Linked DNA regions of Homo sapiens: region 1 is linked to region 2. The links come from fine-mapping of genetic effects on gene expression. Tissue or cell type: breast. Region 2 holds a variant in brackets; the other region holds the start of a gene. All regions are shown on one strand. Distances are between the middles of the regions.

What was found. PIP is the estimated chance that this variant, and not a neighbour inherited with it, causes the effect.
Region 1: EXT2 starts here. The variant in region 2 is fine-mapped to the expression of EXT2 in breast (GTEx, PIP 0.98).

The regions. Positions count from the first base shown.
Region 1 is chr11:44,091,015-44,099,176 of GRCh38, reverse strand. It overlaps EXT2 (exostosin glycosyltransferase 2), which reads right to left and starts at 3,499. Exons shown (of 14, transcript NM_207122.2): 1 at 3,325-3,499. RefSeq lists an enhancer at 2,543-2,592 and a silencer at 3,013-3,632.
Region 2 is chr11:44,127,235-44,135,234 of GRCh38, reverse strand. It overlaps EXT2 (exostosin glycosyltransferase 2), which reads right to left. Exons shown (of 14, transcript NM_207122.2): 7 at 5,097-5,190. Among named protein-coding and RNA genes, the nearest start is that of EXT2, 36 kb to the right of the region's middle. The variant A/C (reference allele first, on the strand shown) is at 4,723.

The DNA.
Region 1 (8,162 bases), 36 kb after region 2:
CCCAAAAATTAGCCAGGTGTGGTGGTGCACGACTACACTCCCAGCTACTTGGGAGGCTGAGGTGGGAGGGTTTCTTGAACCCGGGAGGTTGAGGCTGCAGTGAGCCATGACTGCGTCACTGTACTCCAGTCTGGGCGACAATGGAGACCCTGTCTCCAAGGAGAAAAAAGAAAATAGAACATATTTAATATAAACATAAATATTTGTTGAACGAACAAATGTCTGTATCCTTCCCAGTTCCATAGGTGCACACGGTTTAGCATCCAAGTTTTGAGTTATTATATGTGACGGCCTCTGACTATTATCTTTCCTAAATAGGAAGGAATTTCCAAAGGAGGAGGGGGAATGGCTAGATATTTCCATAGACTCTGAATTTTCTGTACCCACCCCTGAACACCCTCCTCTCCCACCACCCACCATATGCAAACACATCCAAAGAGCACCATTACTTTCCCCACCCCTGCTTTTTTTTTTTTTTTTTTGAGACAGAATCTCTCTCTGTTGCCCAGGCTGGAGTGCAGTGGTGTCATCTCGGCTCACTGCAACCTCTGCCTCCTGGGTTCAAGCGATTCTCGTGCCTCAGCCTCCCAAGTCACTGGGATTACAGGCGCCCACCACCATCCCCGGCTAATTTTTTGTATTTTTTAGTAGAGACGGAGTTTTGCCAAGTTGGCCAGGCTCGTCTTGAACTCCTGACCTCAGGTAATCCACCTACCTCAGCCTCCCAAAGTGCTGAGATTACAGGATTGAGCCACCGTGCCCAGGCTGCACCCCTGCCTTTATAAACCTGTGCTATACTGGACCCCTTTTGTAAAACTGCCAGCCTAGACTGAAGTGACAGTGCTCCCGACTCAGGACACTCCAACCTCACCCCTGTAACACACAGAACCAATCCTCCCAAAACAGTTTTCACATGCCAAAGCACAGAGAGATGGAGTATCTCCAAACCATCATCCGAGGAAACAAGTCATAATCTCTCTGTCCAGTGAGACTGCTCCCTACCACCAAGAAGTTAAAATCCCCGGAAGATGACAGACTGAAAGGAATCTTCTACTAATGAAGGTTTATTCCATACAATACCATAACCTGGATCAAAACAAGAATTTCAGCCCTACAAACTTTATCACCTTGAAACACATCAAACCTGCCCCTGCAAAACACTGGAATCATCTGGCTAGCTGTCAAGCACTGAGTCACTGGAAAAGTCTTTTAACCCCAACCTATTGTGAGGATGAGATGCATTTTCTGTTCCTGGAATTATTTATTCCTAAAATTTGCCTGAATAATCTTTCCTTGGTGCTTCAGGTTATAGCCAATCCACTTAGTCCAATGTTTTCAGTCACAGTCTCTTGTCGTTTCAACCTTTTTATTTTTATTTTATTTATTTATTTATTTATTTATTTATTTATTTATTTTTTGAGATGGAGTCTTGCTCTGTCACTCAGGCTGGAGTGCAGTGGCACAATCTCAACTCACTACAACCTCAGCCTCCCAAGTAGCTGGGATTACAAGCGTGTGCTACCACACCCAGCTAATTTTTTTGTATTTTTAGTAGAGACAAGTTTTCATCATGTTGGCCAGCTGGTCTTGAACTCCTGGCCTCAAGTGATCCACCCACCTCGGCCTCCCAAAGTGTTGGGATTACAGGCGTGAGCCACCGCGCCTGGCCTCTTCTTAACCTTTTTAGAAAGGGCCTTACAGCTGAACTCCTGGGGCCACTGCCACACTGGATCTTAACCCAACCATTCCGAAAAACAGAGGAACCAAATATAAGCAAAAGCAAAAAAAGCCACAATTCATTGCCTTACTTGATAGGATTCTTTATAATTAAAGTTATGTTATGGCTAAATGCCCCTAAAAATTATTTTCAATTAAAAACAATGCCCTTTTAATCATGGGAATTATACCATAAGACAATGTGTGTCATTACATAATTAATATGTAAATCTTACTAAGCACTTACTACATGCCAGGGTCTGTTTTAAGCACTTTATAGTGTTAACTTATTTAATCTTCATAACAGCACTATAAGCCAAGCTATTATTACCCTCATTTTACAGATGGGGATAGTACAACAGAAAGTTTAAGTACCTGGCCCAATATTACACAACTGGAAATGCCAAAGCTAGGATTCACAGCATGGCAGTCTGGCCCCAAAACTGATTATCCATTCATACCCTCACATGCAACCAGGAAGTCGGGGAAAGTGAATGATGGAAACTGAATCATCTATTTTATTACAGTGAATAGCCTTTGAGTTCTGAAAGTTACAAACTAAGTCCAGTTAAAGTACATAGAGCACTTACCTGACTTACAAGAAGTTAAGACTTACAAGAATTTAAATGTACATATTTCAAGACCATATCTTCACATAAATAAGTCAAGAACCTTTCTAGATTAGCATTGCCCAATCAGTAACACCAAGCAATTCTTTGATTCTCAAAATTGTGTGTTTAGATCTGGTTCCCACCGAATGTAACAAAGCCCCAAACACCTCTGGACTTCAAGTTGAAGCCCAGAGCCAGTGTGCTTCTGGCCACCTAGTCCCGAGACTAACATGCCCCTGGCCCCGGCCCGACACACCCCCGGGCCACCTAGTCCCTGGCCTAACATGCCACCAGCAATCTAGTCCGCAGTCTAACATACTCCTGCCCCGTCCTGACAGGCCCCCGGCCACCCAGTCCCCTGCCTAACACGCCCCCAGCCACCTAGTGCCTGGCCCAACATGACCCCGGCCACCCAGTCCCCGGCCTAACACGCCCCCGGCCATCTAGTTCCCGGTCACCCAGTCCCCGGCCTAACACGCCCCCGACCACCCAGTCCCCGGCATAACATGCCCCTGGCCCCTTCCCTACCTCGTCCCACGGCTTCTGGCACCGCAAGGGATGCCGCAGGCCACCACCGGACCCTGAGGCGCAGGACATCCCCCTGGGAGGAATCAGATCCCTGTGGCTGGCGGGAAGGTGGCAGCAGGAAGGGAGGGGTCACGGCGGAGGGCGGAGGGCGGGTCGCAGGAGGAAAGGAAGGAGCGGACTGGGGGCGAAGGTTGGCTAGGAGAACAGGTGGGTACCAAGATGCTGAAAGCGCGGCCGCCGCCGGAGGAGAAGGAGAAGCAGGAGTGGAAATCGGAGCGCTCCAAAAGCGGGCAGTCATTGTCACAGCCCCGGCGGGGCTGGGGGTGGCCTCTCGCAGCCCACGGGCCTCCACGGAGCCTCCGCGCGGCCGCGCTCCCTCGGCCCTTGTCCCGACCCAGCAGCGGCCCCCGGAGGCCCGAGCCCTCGCTTCAGCGCCCGCCCGGCCGCCGCCCTGGAGAGCCGCGCTTACCTCGGCCACGGCTGCCTCCCGCTCGGCCCCGAGCTTGGTCACCGGCTCATGCCGCGGGGCGCGGGCCACCTCCGCCCAGGTCGGATCGGTCCGAATCGCCAGCCGCCACTGCCAGGGCCGAGTCTGGGCTGGCGAGCAGCGAGCGAGGGGCCGGTAACCGGGATCCGGGCCGTCTGACACCGAGCGCACTGCGCATGCGGGAGCTGCCGGGCCGCGCCTCCTGCTGGACAGGAGGAGTCCGAGCACCGCTGCAGTGTTTTCCCAGGCAGGCGCGCTCAGGCTCCGCAGTGAAATGCTCAGACAGCCTCATTCATAATTAAAGAATCCTTAAACCCAAACGAGACACCACGCGTTGCTTATAAAACTAACAAATATGTAGACGTTTTATTATAATCAGTTCTGGTGAGCGTATAACATTCCTGGAGGGCAATTTGGTACTATCCATCAAACGGAAAATGCTGGTACCCTTCATTCCAACAAGCTCTCTGTACGGAGTTTGCCCTATGGATATTCTCAACAATGTTTGTCAAAAAGTTCCATGACAGCATTCTTTCTAATCATAGCGAAATGCTAGACACAATCGAAATAAATTATGGAATTTGATTGATTTGAGTAATGTGAGATAGTGCAATATATTTGGGTAAGGAAATATCTCCAAGATATTAGTTAAGATCAAAGCGTAGTCCAAAACAGCGGGCAAGTCACTTTTAGGTAAACTATGCATATGCAAAAACAAGAGGGAGAAATATATAAAGTAGGTGCTTATATTCAGGCATGTGTATAACTTTTTTCTGGAAGGAATGCAAGAAGAAATGAACAGCTTCAGGTGGAGTAGTTGTCGAGGCGGAAATGGAAGCATTTATGGCGAGGAAAGGTGGCTCACGCCTGTAATTCCAGCATTTGGGGAGGCCTAAACGAGAGGATCGCTTGAGCCCAAGAGTTTGAGACCAGCCTGGGCAGCAGAGCAAGACCCCATCTCTACAAAAAATAAAAAGTTAACTAGGCATCGTAGCACACGCTTGTAGTCCCAACTACTTAGGAGGCAGAGGCAGGAAGATTGCTTGAGCCCAGGAGGTCAAGGCTGCAGTGGGCCGTGGTCGTGCCACTGCACTCCAGCCTGGGTGATAGAGCAAGACCCTGTCTCCAAAAAAAAAAAAAAAAAACGCATTTTTGTTTTGTATCTTTCTCTATTATTTACATGATTTAGCCCTATCCATGCACACTAAAACCGCTGTCATAAAGCAGTAAGTGGAAACTAAAAAATTAAATTAAAATTCAGAGCGATGTTATTGAGAGGTTAATGAAATGACCCCTGGGCCTGCGATGTTGGTTTGGTAGAGTTGTGGGTCTGGCTACAGGATCCAAATCCCTTCTGGTCCCAGATGTACTTTGGCGCCATCTGGTGGAAGTTGTCACTGATAGCTTAAATATTCAAAGTGATGATTCTGAGACTAGATACCTACAGAGGCTTCCGGCAGCAACCTCGATTCCAGGGATATTTTTGTGAGTTAATGCCTGCTTGTCACAGATCTAGGGAGATTGGGATGAGGACATTCTGGGGATGGGACACTCATGTTCTGCTTCCCCACATCCAAGGGGGCATTGCTCTGCTTTCCAAATCAAATCCCCCCTGCAAATGATACAAAATGTAGCACACACCCACCCCATTTGAGAACTGGATGGGTGGAGAGCAGTGACAATCACCACTGGAACTGTATCCAAATTTATCTTATCCCAGGGAATATTGTTTTCACTTTTTGAAATAAGTCAACAATAGCTATCTGGTCTGGAAGATTGTGGCCTCTTTTTTTCTTCTCCATATTTATCTGTATTTTAAACATGTATGTTTTTAATTAATCCTTTGTTCTTTTATAAAATGAGAATTTGCCGTGTTAAAGAACTGTGTGAGGCACAGCCTCACACAATGCTGCCTATCTTCTTCATTTTTTATAACCTTAAACTTGCCTAATGCCTGGCATATAGTTAATTGCTCAATAAATAGTTGTTGAATGGAGAAAGGATGCCTAGACACTGGGAGGAGCTAACTAGAAATAAGACAATAAGATTATTCAAAGGAGAAGGTAAAAAGTGGCATAGAAGCATATAAACAAAATGCTACAGAATTCAAAAAAAAAAAAGAGGTGACATCCAGTTGGAAAAATCTAGGAAGAGTTCAATCAACAGTTGATATCTTTGTTTATCCTGGAGGACACTTAGTATTTTGACAAGCAGAGAGGTGAAAAGGGCATTCAAGGCAGAGAAAGAAAGTCATGAGCATGTGTTAAAGAAGGAAAAGCAGCTGGGCAGAATGGCTCACATCTGTAACCCCAGCACTTTGGGAGGCCGAGGCAGGAGGATCACTTGAGACCACAAGTTCAATACCAGCCTAGGCAAAAAAGTGAGACCCCCATCTCTGCAAAAAAAAAGAGTAATAAATAAAAATAAAGAAGGAAAAGCAATCAGAAAGAGCAAGTGTTTTTCAATCCAGTGTGGCTACATTTCTAGGCATAGAAACCATGCAAGTGAGGGAGGTGGGAAAATATAGAAGATGTGAAATTAGAAGCTACATGATGCGAAAGTATCCAAGGATGACTTCAGGGAGGAGTGGGAAATAAATTATAAGCCAGGACCTGAAGTTTCTGAGAAGGCAGAAAAGCGTCTTAGTAGCTGGTGGTTGAAGGAGGAGAGGTTGTAGAAAGATACTGCTTTACTGAATTTGAAGTTACAGGGCAAAGCAAAGATTACACAGATACCCCCTTACCCAGTGAGTCAGGAAATATGAAAGTCAGGATTAGAAAGGGAATGGCTTTCGTGGAAAATAGTGTCATCAGGGGAAAGTGAGTTTCCAATTAGGAGAAAGAGCTGGTGTAGGGTTGAATCCCATATTTAGCACTTCCTCTAAATACAGTTGATTCTTGAACAACACAGGTTTAAACTTTGCAGATCCACTGCTGTGCAGATTTTTTTTCAACAAAAGTTACACCAAGTGTGCCTGCCTCTCCAGCTTCTCTTTCCACCTCTGCTACCTATTCTGCCTCTGCCACTCCTGAGACAGTGAGACCAACCCCCCTTCCTTCTCCTCCTTGGCCTACACAACATGAAGATGAGGAGGATGAAGATCGTTATGACTTCCACTTAATGAATAGTAAATATATTTTTCTTCCTCCTGACTTTCTTAATAACATTTTCTTTTCTCTTGCTTACTTTATTGTAAGAATACAGTATTTAATATATATAACATATAAAATATGTTTAATAGACTATTTACATTATCAGTAAGGTGTCCAGTCAACAGAAGGCTATTAGTAGTTAAGTTTTGGGGGAGTCAAAAGTTATACATCATTTTTCAACTGCTTAGGGGATTGGCACCCCAACCCCCACATTATTCAAGAGTCTACTGTAACAGAGATATCCAAGAATGGAAAAAGGCATATTCTCTAAAGAAAAGGGCTCCATAATATAATTGATCTGTGGGACCTTAGGTTGGCTCAGCTTAAAACAGCACTGGCAGGCAGCATGGTAGGCTAAAAAACACCTAACCAGGTGAAATATAAGGAATACCTTCTCAAGTGAATAGCTGAGCTTACGCACAAAAAAAAGGAAGGAAAACATCCAAAGTCAAAAATGAAGCTTAAATAATAGAAATGACATTGAAGCTACAACTATCTTGGGCATACAAGGCAGGAAGCTGATACAAAGAAACCCATAAAGCTAGGATCTTAAAGAATTACACCCAACAGGGAATACTGGAAAAAATTTGCTCAACATCCACCAAAGAAACTTACCTGTCTTGTCCAGGGAATGGAAAAAGAAGAGAGTCTCACTGATGATCTTTAACACGCATATCTTAGTCAGTTCGGGCTGCTATAACAAAAATACCACAGACTGGGTGGCTTAAACAACAGGAATTTATTTCTCCCAGCTCTAGAGGCTAGGAAGTCCAAGATCAAGGTGCTGGCCAATTTGGTTCCTGATGAGGGCTCTTTTTCTGGTTTGCAGAGGGTTACCTTCTTGCTATATTCTCATATGGTGGAGAAAAAGACCTTTCTGTGTCTCTTCTTGTCAGGGCACTAATCCTACTCATGAGGATTCCACCCTCAAGACCTAATTACATCCCAAAGGCCCCACCTCCAATAATCATCACACTGGGGATTAGGACTTCAACATATGAAGGAGGTGTGGGAGGGGATGAACATTCAGTTCATAGCAATCAAGCTTTATGACCATCTGGGGTTTGAATTTATACCACCAGCATGGTCTAGGAAGCTCCAAGCCAGGATAGTAACATACAGTATTCCCAGGTTGGTAGCACCCAAAGACATCCAACAGAAGGAAACATAAATCCCCTCTGGAGACCCACATCCTCAACACAAGCTACCTAGGATTCTGACAAATAAAACCCTGACAAATGTAAACTCACAATGCAGAACTATAAAGCATATGAGAAAACAAACCACCAGAAATCACAAACAGCAGAAATTTAACCCCCAAGAACTACATATAATTGAATTATGATACATAAATATAAAACAAGTATGTTTATACCACTCAAAGACTTAAAATGAAATGTAAAACATTACAAAGAAATAAGATGTTATATTTTTAAAAGACCAAGGAGACTGAAAATGTACTAAATATAAACATTGAAATTGAAAAGTCAATGCATAAGTTAAATAGTAGGTTAGAAACAACAACGATCGATCTGAAAGACAGGAAACGAATTAAATATAGGAAAGAGAAGTTAAGAGAGGGAGAGGAGAGATGAAGAAAATGGCACATATCTAAAAGGAGGGAATAGAGAAAAGGAGGTGAAGGTAATATCCAAGGAGATGATAGCT
Region 2 (8,000 bases):
GGATAAAATAAGAGGCCCCTGATAGGGGCTCTCCTATAAAGTACAGGAACTTCGGTGTATGCACACATTTACTGTTCTGTAGCCTCTTCTACTCTCTTCTTGATCACTACTAGGCCCAACTATAGTCTAGAGGTTTTATTTTCTTAAATAAAATTGTTTTGTCTTTTTCCTAATCAGCCCACTACATCTTCAAGTACTTCTCTGCAGCACCAATATTTGGTTTGCTTAATAGAAAAATATGAAGGCACATTGAGATGGATCAGTGTAATAGACTGAAAAGAAACTGGTATTTTAATGTACCCCAAGTGTTAAAGGCTAGAGAGAAAAGAAGATGCTGAATGTTTCTGCCACCTCAAAGGCTTCTAGTCAATTGAGTACAAAGAAGAGTTCAAAGGCAAGTCAGGCTCCTGACTTCCACCTCCTAGTGTGGCTGAGGTTAGAGGTCACTGCTGGTGGAGCCACTGACCAATAAAAGAATGTTTGGAAATTCTACTCAACAGATAAACTGGGGATCCATTTACACCTTCCTCCCTATCCATACAAACATTTCTAACGATACAGTCTAGTGTCTATCCAGCCTTCTGAGATCCCAGATTGTGTACTTTTTCTTTGTGATTCAGGGGAGACTGGGAATATGAATGTTCCATTTGACTACAGAAAAATATTTAGCTGCATACTTCTGCCTGCCTTCCAACATAAGAAAGATGGCTGATGGAACTCCCATCTCAAGGCCTACCTCAGATTCTACATCTCCAAGAAATTCATCCTGACAGCTTTAGCCCCAACTTTCTCCCTTCCATTTCAGACCCTTAATGACCCATAATGTACCTAGAAATATCGGCATCATCTTCTCAACTTTCTTTATGCTTATACCCATATATCCCCAACACAAGCCCTTTGTGAATGGGGATCAAAGATTTTTTTTATTATCTCCTATAATCTCTCCCCCCACCAAAAAACATTAGGGATTCAATAAATTAACTAGTTAATCATTAGCTCACAGGACAATAAAAGGCCAACTGAGAAGTCAGCTTTATACTGTTACAACTACTGTCTTCTACTGACTTAAGGAACTGTTTTTTAACTTCCCCACAAAAAGCCCTATAAGCCCCCAGTAGTCTGCCCAATGCCACGTGTGGCAGCACTGCTCACTGGTGGCCTTCAGGAATAGATACCAGAGACACAGGTTGTACTTTTTTTCAAAAGTCTTAGTCTAACTATAGCTGTTACTTACATTAGGCTCTAGCCTTGTAGTTAACTTTTTGGCTGCTACTATCACATCTAAGGGAATTTAATTTCCTTTCTTTGTCAGGTAGTATGACTTTCTCCCTTGGTACACACAAATTCCCGTCACAACAAGGACTTTCACCACTTTAGACATCTGTCAGATTGTAGCCTTTCTGATCCTAAACTCTAAGCTGCAAAATGTTGCTCCAATACCTTCCTCACCAAGACCCTACCCCACATTTCTGGGGCCAAATCAGAAACTTTAGCTCTATTGCATCTAGGGAGAGTAAAATCCTGTGCTAAGCAGGATTTTCTTTCTTCTTCTTCATCTGAAAGAAATGGTCTCTAGAGAGCAGCTATCAGGAAGATGTCAGTGTGAAGCACCAGAGTGGCTCATGGCATTTAGGATTTCTTGGAAAGATTTAAATACTCAGAGGGAAAATGAGTTAATTAAAAGTGGATGGAGACCTCTGCTGGCTACAACTGTCCAATGCAGCTCCATTAAGCTAGTCTGGAGTTTCTCAGCAAGCAAATCAGACTCTGTTCCTCACCCTCAGTTCATTCTGATACATCATCTAGGGGCTCCAAGGTATCAACTACTGATACAATAGGCTTTCCCCTAAAAGTGGATGCCTGTCTTGCAAAAAGACCCACCTCTGACCTCCCTAAAGAGAATTCACTAAGGTATAAGAACTTTTCAGAATCAGGTGTTTTACCATTTTTTTAATTACTCCTGCCAAGGTCAGGTTAAATCAATAGAAGGTAAACAGAAAGCAAAATGACAAGAATGTTTTGGAAACAGTATATTTTGTTATAGAACCAAAGAACTCTAATTTTAGAGAGATGAGACATTAACTATCTATAGAGAACAGTGGTTCTCAGTTAAAGCAATTTTGCTTGCCCTCCACCCCCAACCCCAAAGGGGACAATTGGCAAGCAATGTTCTAGAGACATTTTTGGTGATCACAACTGAGGGGAGGGGTGCTATTGGAATCTAGTAGTAGTTGAAGAAACCTAGTCATCCTTTATACCTAACTGGAAATTACTTTAACCAGATAATCTCATATCTAATTGAGATCAGCCCACTCTAGAAATGTGGGGTTAGGAAAAGAAAAGAGGTCATTTTGGGAACATGGATTACTCAGAGAAAGGGGAGTGGGACTAGTGAGTTGCCGCAGTGGAGAGCTTTAGATGGTCCGAAAGCAGCACAGGGAAAGAGGCCGTCAGAAAGCGGAAAAGGGAGTTAGAAAGGGGGCCGGGAAAGTGCCAAGACCACCTTTCTTTTTAAGCTGGCATAGTGGACTGTTCACCACTAGAGGAGGCAAGTGGCCCTTGTGACTAGAGCTGTTCAAGGGGAGAAGAGATGACCACTAAATTATTAATGTTGTCAAGGAGAGTAATGTTCTTGGTAGGGATAAGCATTTCATAGAGTTTTTTAACAGCCACATGGAACATGAGAGATTATTTAGCCAACCCCTTCATTTCATAAATGAGGAAATGGAAGCCTAGGGAGCTTGGGGACTTACCATGGTCATGCAATCAAACGGACAGAGCCAGGGATCAAACCCAAGTCTTTTGACTCAGTGTGTCTCTTTGAACCCAAATAACCCAAAAGTACGCTGTTTTAAATGACCAGCATTCATTCCTTCTCAACTGTTCTATGATTCTGAGCCAACACTGAAAATGACCAAGCTTATCTCAGACCTGTGGTTCCCACACCACCCTCCTATGGGCAACAGTCCTCTGTGAGCTGGCAGTAGACGCCACTCCAAAAACCAAATGATTCTCTTTCACAGCTTCAGGGTGGAGGGGTGGAGAAGAAACTGGATAGAATTTGTGCATTTTAACCTCCCCAGTTTTTTCTTACCCTTTCTAGACTAGATTCTAGTATAAAATAGTCTCTGCTTTAGCCTATAATTCTATATTTAGTTTTACTAATAAATCAAGATTCCATAAAAAGTAACACAAAGTGGGCCAGGTGTGGTGGCTCACGCCTATAATCCCAGCATTTTGGGAAGCCGAGGCGGGCGGATCACTTGGGGTCAAGAGTTCGACCAGCCTGGCCAACATGGTGAAATCCTGTCTCTACTGAAAGTACCAAAATTAGCCGGGCATGGTGGCGCGTGCCTGTAGTCCCAGCTACTCGGGAGGCTAAGGCAGGAGAATCACTAGAACCCTGGCGGCAGAGGTTGCAGTGAGCCAAGATCATGCCACTGCACTCCAGCCTGCACTACAGAGTGAGACCCCTCGGCGGGGAAAGAAAAGGTAACACAAAATGCACAAACATTATGACTCCTCAAGGGGCATTTTCTTCTACACAAGTTTTAGGAACCACAGGTTTAGATAAAAAATCTAGAGATCTCTGGACTGATTTTCTGATTCACTAAAACTTAGATGAAATCAGTGGTTAAATAACAATTGGGAAACCCAGAAACTTAAAACGAACAGGAGGATGCTATAAATAAACTGCAGGGAAGCTAAAACTAACCTGCGATTTGCGTTCAAACCAGAATGCCAAAATATTGCACAGATGAGGTCACTGAGGCCCAGAGAAGGCAGATCCTTACCTAAGGGTACAGAGTTTGTAACCCACAGAGCTGATACCCAAGCCAGGCAATCTGAGGTAAGAACCTACAGACTTAATCTGTGTCGATAAGAAGTTCACTATCATAATAAAGAGGGTGGACTGAACACATCCACTAACCTCACTCTCCTAAAACTCTAAAATGACAATTAAGGGGAATTTTCTAAATTAAGGTATGTATCCCCTAAGAAAAAGAGAATGAAAGACAAGATAACAGCATCAGAATGTGGAAGCTGAAAAGTAAAGGAAGAAGTGGTAACTGATGCTATAGACTCAAGAGAGCTGCCTCCTAAATCAGCTGAGAAAAACCTGAGTCACACTGCAGAGCCCCAAGTCAGGGGAAGAGTGGGGTTCAAGCAGGAGGTCAAAGTGAAACTTTAAGTAACAGTCAGAACCTCAGATCCCCTCCCCACACAGCCAGGCAGATGCGCTGTCCCCATCCAGACAGAAGCCTGTGGCCTGTTCTTGGGACATGGCCAAATGCAGGCTCTCTGCCTGAGGCTGAGGGTGCCGAACTAACAGCAGGGGGTGGCATGGGACACTTACGCACGTACTGCTGAGAATCCGCCAAGCCTCTTTTCCTGCTCTTCTCCCACATCGGTGATTTTGACAAAGATTAAACCTTTTTAAAAGTCCATTAAAAATTTTTGGGATAGTCTTCTTAACTTTTTCACCTTGCTTGATATTTAAACCCAATTAAATGTCCTTCAGGACAAAGAAACGGAAGCAGGACTCAGTGGGACATCAAGTGGAGTATGAGACAGTCAGAGATCAGCCTAGGGAATGGGGTGTCAGAAGGTAGAAGAGAAATTTGGAAAGAGAGGCAGGAAAATGGCAAATGTTCCAGAAGAGAGGGAAGGATTCCCGAATTACAAAGGATGACTGAACTGGGAAGCTGGGCTAGTTTGTGC[A/C]GCAATAGTATCATGGTCAATAGCTACACAGAAGTATTGCCCTGAAATGGTCCAGCTTCCATGGCTGTCTTAGTCACTACGACTATCACCTGCTGTGACTACAAACCCTCCAAAGAGCTTCAGCTTTGCATCTGCTATGGTAAGACCCTAAAATTGCAGTAGGCTTACCTCTGCACAGTTCTCTGAGAGTTATTATTTCAAACCTTATTTGATGCAACTCACCTAACATTAATTTCCTATCGTTTCAGTTTGGCTAGTTGATCTAGTGGAGGAAGTAAACCCCACTCAGGCATTCAGCTCCTGTCCCTCTGTATCCAGTCAAGGCCACCATTTCGGTACCACCCATGTCACCTCCCCAAGACTTGGCCTCTTACCTGTCTCTGCATTTCTTCAATCTGTCTTTGGGGGATGCTCTGCAAAATACTGTACACATCTGACATCTTTTCTTCTGGTACAACCACAGATGCTCTGGAGACAACAGCAAAACAGTTTACATACACACAGCCCTTCACAGAAAGCATTTCTACACACAGTCTTGTTTCATTTCACAAGCAGAAACAACATCCCAAACCTCCTTCAGCCCCACATCCCTTCCGGTAAGTATTATCTCTTTCCCCTCCCTTCTTCACTGGCTGAACTTCTCAAAGGAGTTCTCTTACAGCTCCATTTTTTTACCTCCCACTCCCTACTCCATTAATCTTTCACCCTGCCTCCACTCCACTAGTGTGCTCTAGCCACACTGGTATTATTTCAGTCACTTGAACACACCATGCTCTGCCCTACCAGAGGGCCTTTGCATGTGAAATCCCACCCACCTAGTACACTCTTCCTTTATTCCGTTTCTAAGTTAACAAATACTTTTCTCCTTTAGCTATCTATGCAAATCTATTCATTTATCTGGCATATATTTATGGAAGCCCTATTATGTGCTAACCCAACAGTGAATTAATTAGACAAGGAAGGCAAGAGAGTAAGCAGGCCAGAAGAATGCCTGGGAAACAGCATTCCAGGCAAAAAGTCTAACAAGCAAACAGCCCTGAAGAAGCAGTATGGTGGGCAAGTTCCAGGAACAGCAAGGAGGCTATTGTGGCTGGAGCAGAGTAAAGAAGGCAGAGAATAACACCAGGAAAGAAGAAATGGGACAGACAGAGTCACAGCAAAGAGTATAGGACCTTGTAGGCCACTGAAAGACTTGTGCTTTTTTTCTGAGATGGCAAGCCATGAGAGGGTTTTGGGCAAAAGCATGATATAACCTAACCATGTTCCAACAGGATCATTCTATCTAAAGTGTTAGAATAAACTACAGGAAAGCAAGGACAGGAGCAGAGAGAACAACTGGAGAACACTGCAAAAGCCAGGCAAGAGATGCAGATGAGGGAAGACTTGATGATGGGGATGAGAGGGTAGAGCCCACAGGGTTTGCTAACAGATTAGATGTGGTGGGTAAGAGAAAGAGAGGACTCAACAATCACTTTTCCTTCACGACATTTGGCAGAGTTTGTAATTACATTTGTATAAATTAATGATTAAACTCTAAACCTCACTTCTGCCAACTAGGCTAGTCCATTAGGACGGAAAGTGTGCCTGGCTCCACTCACCAGCGTATCCTCAGCACCTGGTATATTACTGCCTTGCACAGTTAGCACTTGATAAACATTTGTTAAGTAAGTAAATGATTTCCACTATACAGATGGGAGAACTGAGACTCAAAAAAGATTAAGTCATTTGCCAAGATCAAAAAGCCAGCCAGTGAGAGAGCTGGTTATCTCAACCTAGGCCTTCTGACTTTAAATCCATAATTAGCACTACCCAAGCAGATCTAGATTCTCATAGAAATACCCTTTTGGACTCAGCTTAGAGTTACCGCCTCTGTGAAGCCCTCACCAATCCCACTGCCAATGATGGTGTGTGTCTCCCCCTCCTCCTGGCATCCCATCCAGTCACAGCTGTCTCATCACAGGATTTGGTAACTGCTGATTTACTCCTCTGTCTTCCACCACTACACTATGAGTGTCCCTGAGAAAAGGTTTGGCCTTGATTGTATTTGTCTCCCTATACTTAAGACAGCATCTGGTAAATAAAAGGTACTTAATGGATGCTTTCATTGGGAGATAAATGCTGGAAGTGGCTCATCGCTTCTCTAAGGCATGAAGAATAACTACATGCTCTCCTCTTTCAAGCTGAGTTAGGCTCCCTCCTCTCTTTTGGGTTTCCATGGTCCCCTGTGCATACAGCTGCTATGACATTTACCACAAAACATTATCATCGGTTTGTCTTCTCTCACTAGATTCTAGCCTCCTTGGAAACAGAGACTCTATGTTACTCACAAGAGGGTTTCCAATCAATGTGAGATGAATGAATAAATGAATGAATGAATGAACTAGAGCTTTTCAAGTTGTTCAAATACCTGTGGTGATCAGATTTGGACAGAAATACCAAAAAAGTTGGGAGAGGAAAAAACCAGTAAGCATTTGAGGCAAGGAAAAGACTGAGAGATAGATATGAATGGAATTAATTTTCAACAACCTTCACCCTGCAAAATCTTGGGAAAGTGAAGCATGAGAATAGAGGGCTATTCTGTTTATTGCAATATAAATGGTGAACACCCAGTAGAATGGAACTGGGTCCATCTGTACACTGGGAATGTCTCTAAGCTTTCATCTACATGAGGCTCTCCACCACCATCTACAACATTATGCAAATTCAATAGACTCTAGACCAGTGGTTCTCAACTCTGACTACAAATCAGAATCACCTGGGAGCTTTAACATTCAGAATCCCCAAGAATTAGGCAAGGCATTTTTTTTAAGCTCTCCAGGTGAGTCTACTCTGTAGTCAGAGTTGAACACCGGTCTAGGCTAGAGGTTGGTAACCATTTTCTGAAAAGCAACAGTCCCCAACCTTTTCAGCACCAAGGACTGGTTTTGTGGAAGACAATTTTTCCACAGACTGGGTTTGGCAGGGAATCGTTTGGGGATGAAACTGTTCCACCTCAGATCATCAGGCATTAGTTAAATTCTCATAAGGAGAGCGCAACCTAGATCCCTTGTATGCACAATTCACAGTAGGGTCCACGCTTCTATGATAATTTAATGCCACCACTGATCTGACAGGAGGCGAGGCTCAGATGGTAATGTTCACTGGCCCGCTGGTCACCTCCTGCTGTGCAGCCCGGCTCCAAACAGGCCACAGCCCGGGAGTTGGGGACCCCTGTGATGAAAGGCCAGATAGTGATATTTTAAGCCCTGTATGTCATCCAATTTCTGTTGCAATTACTT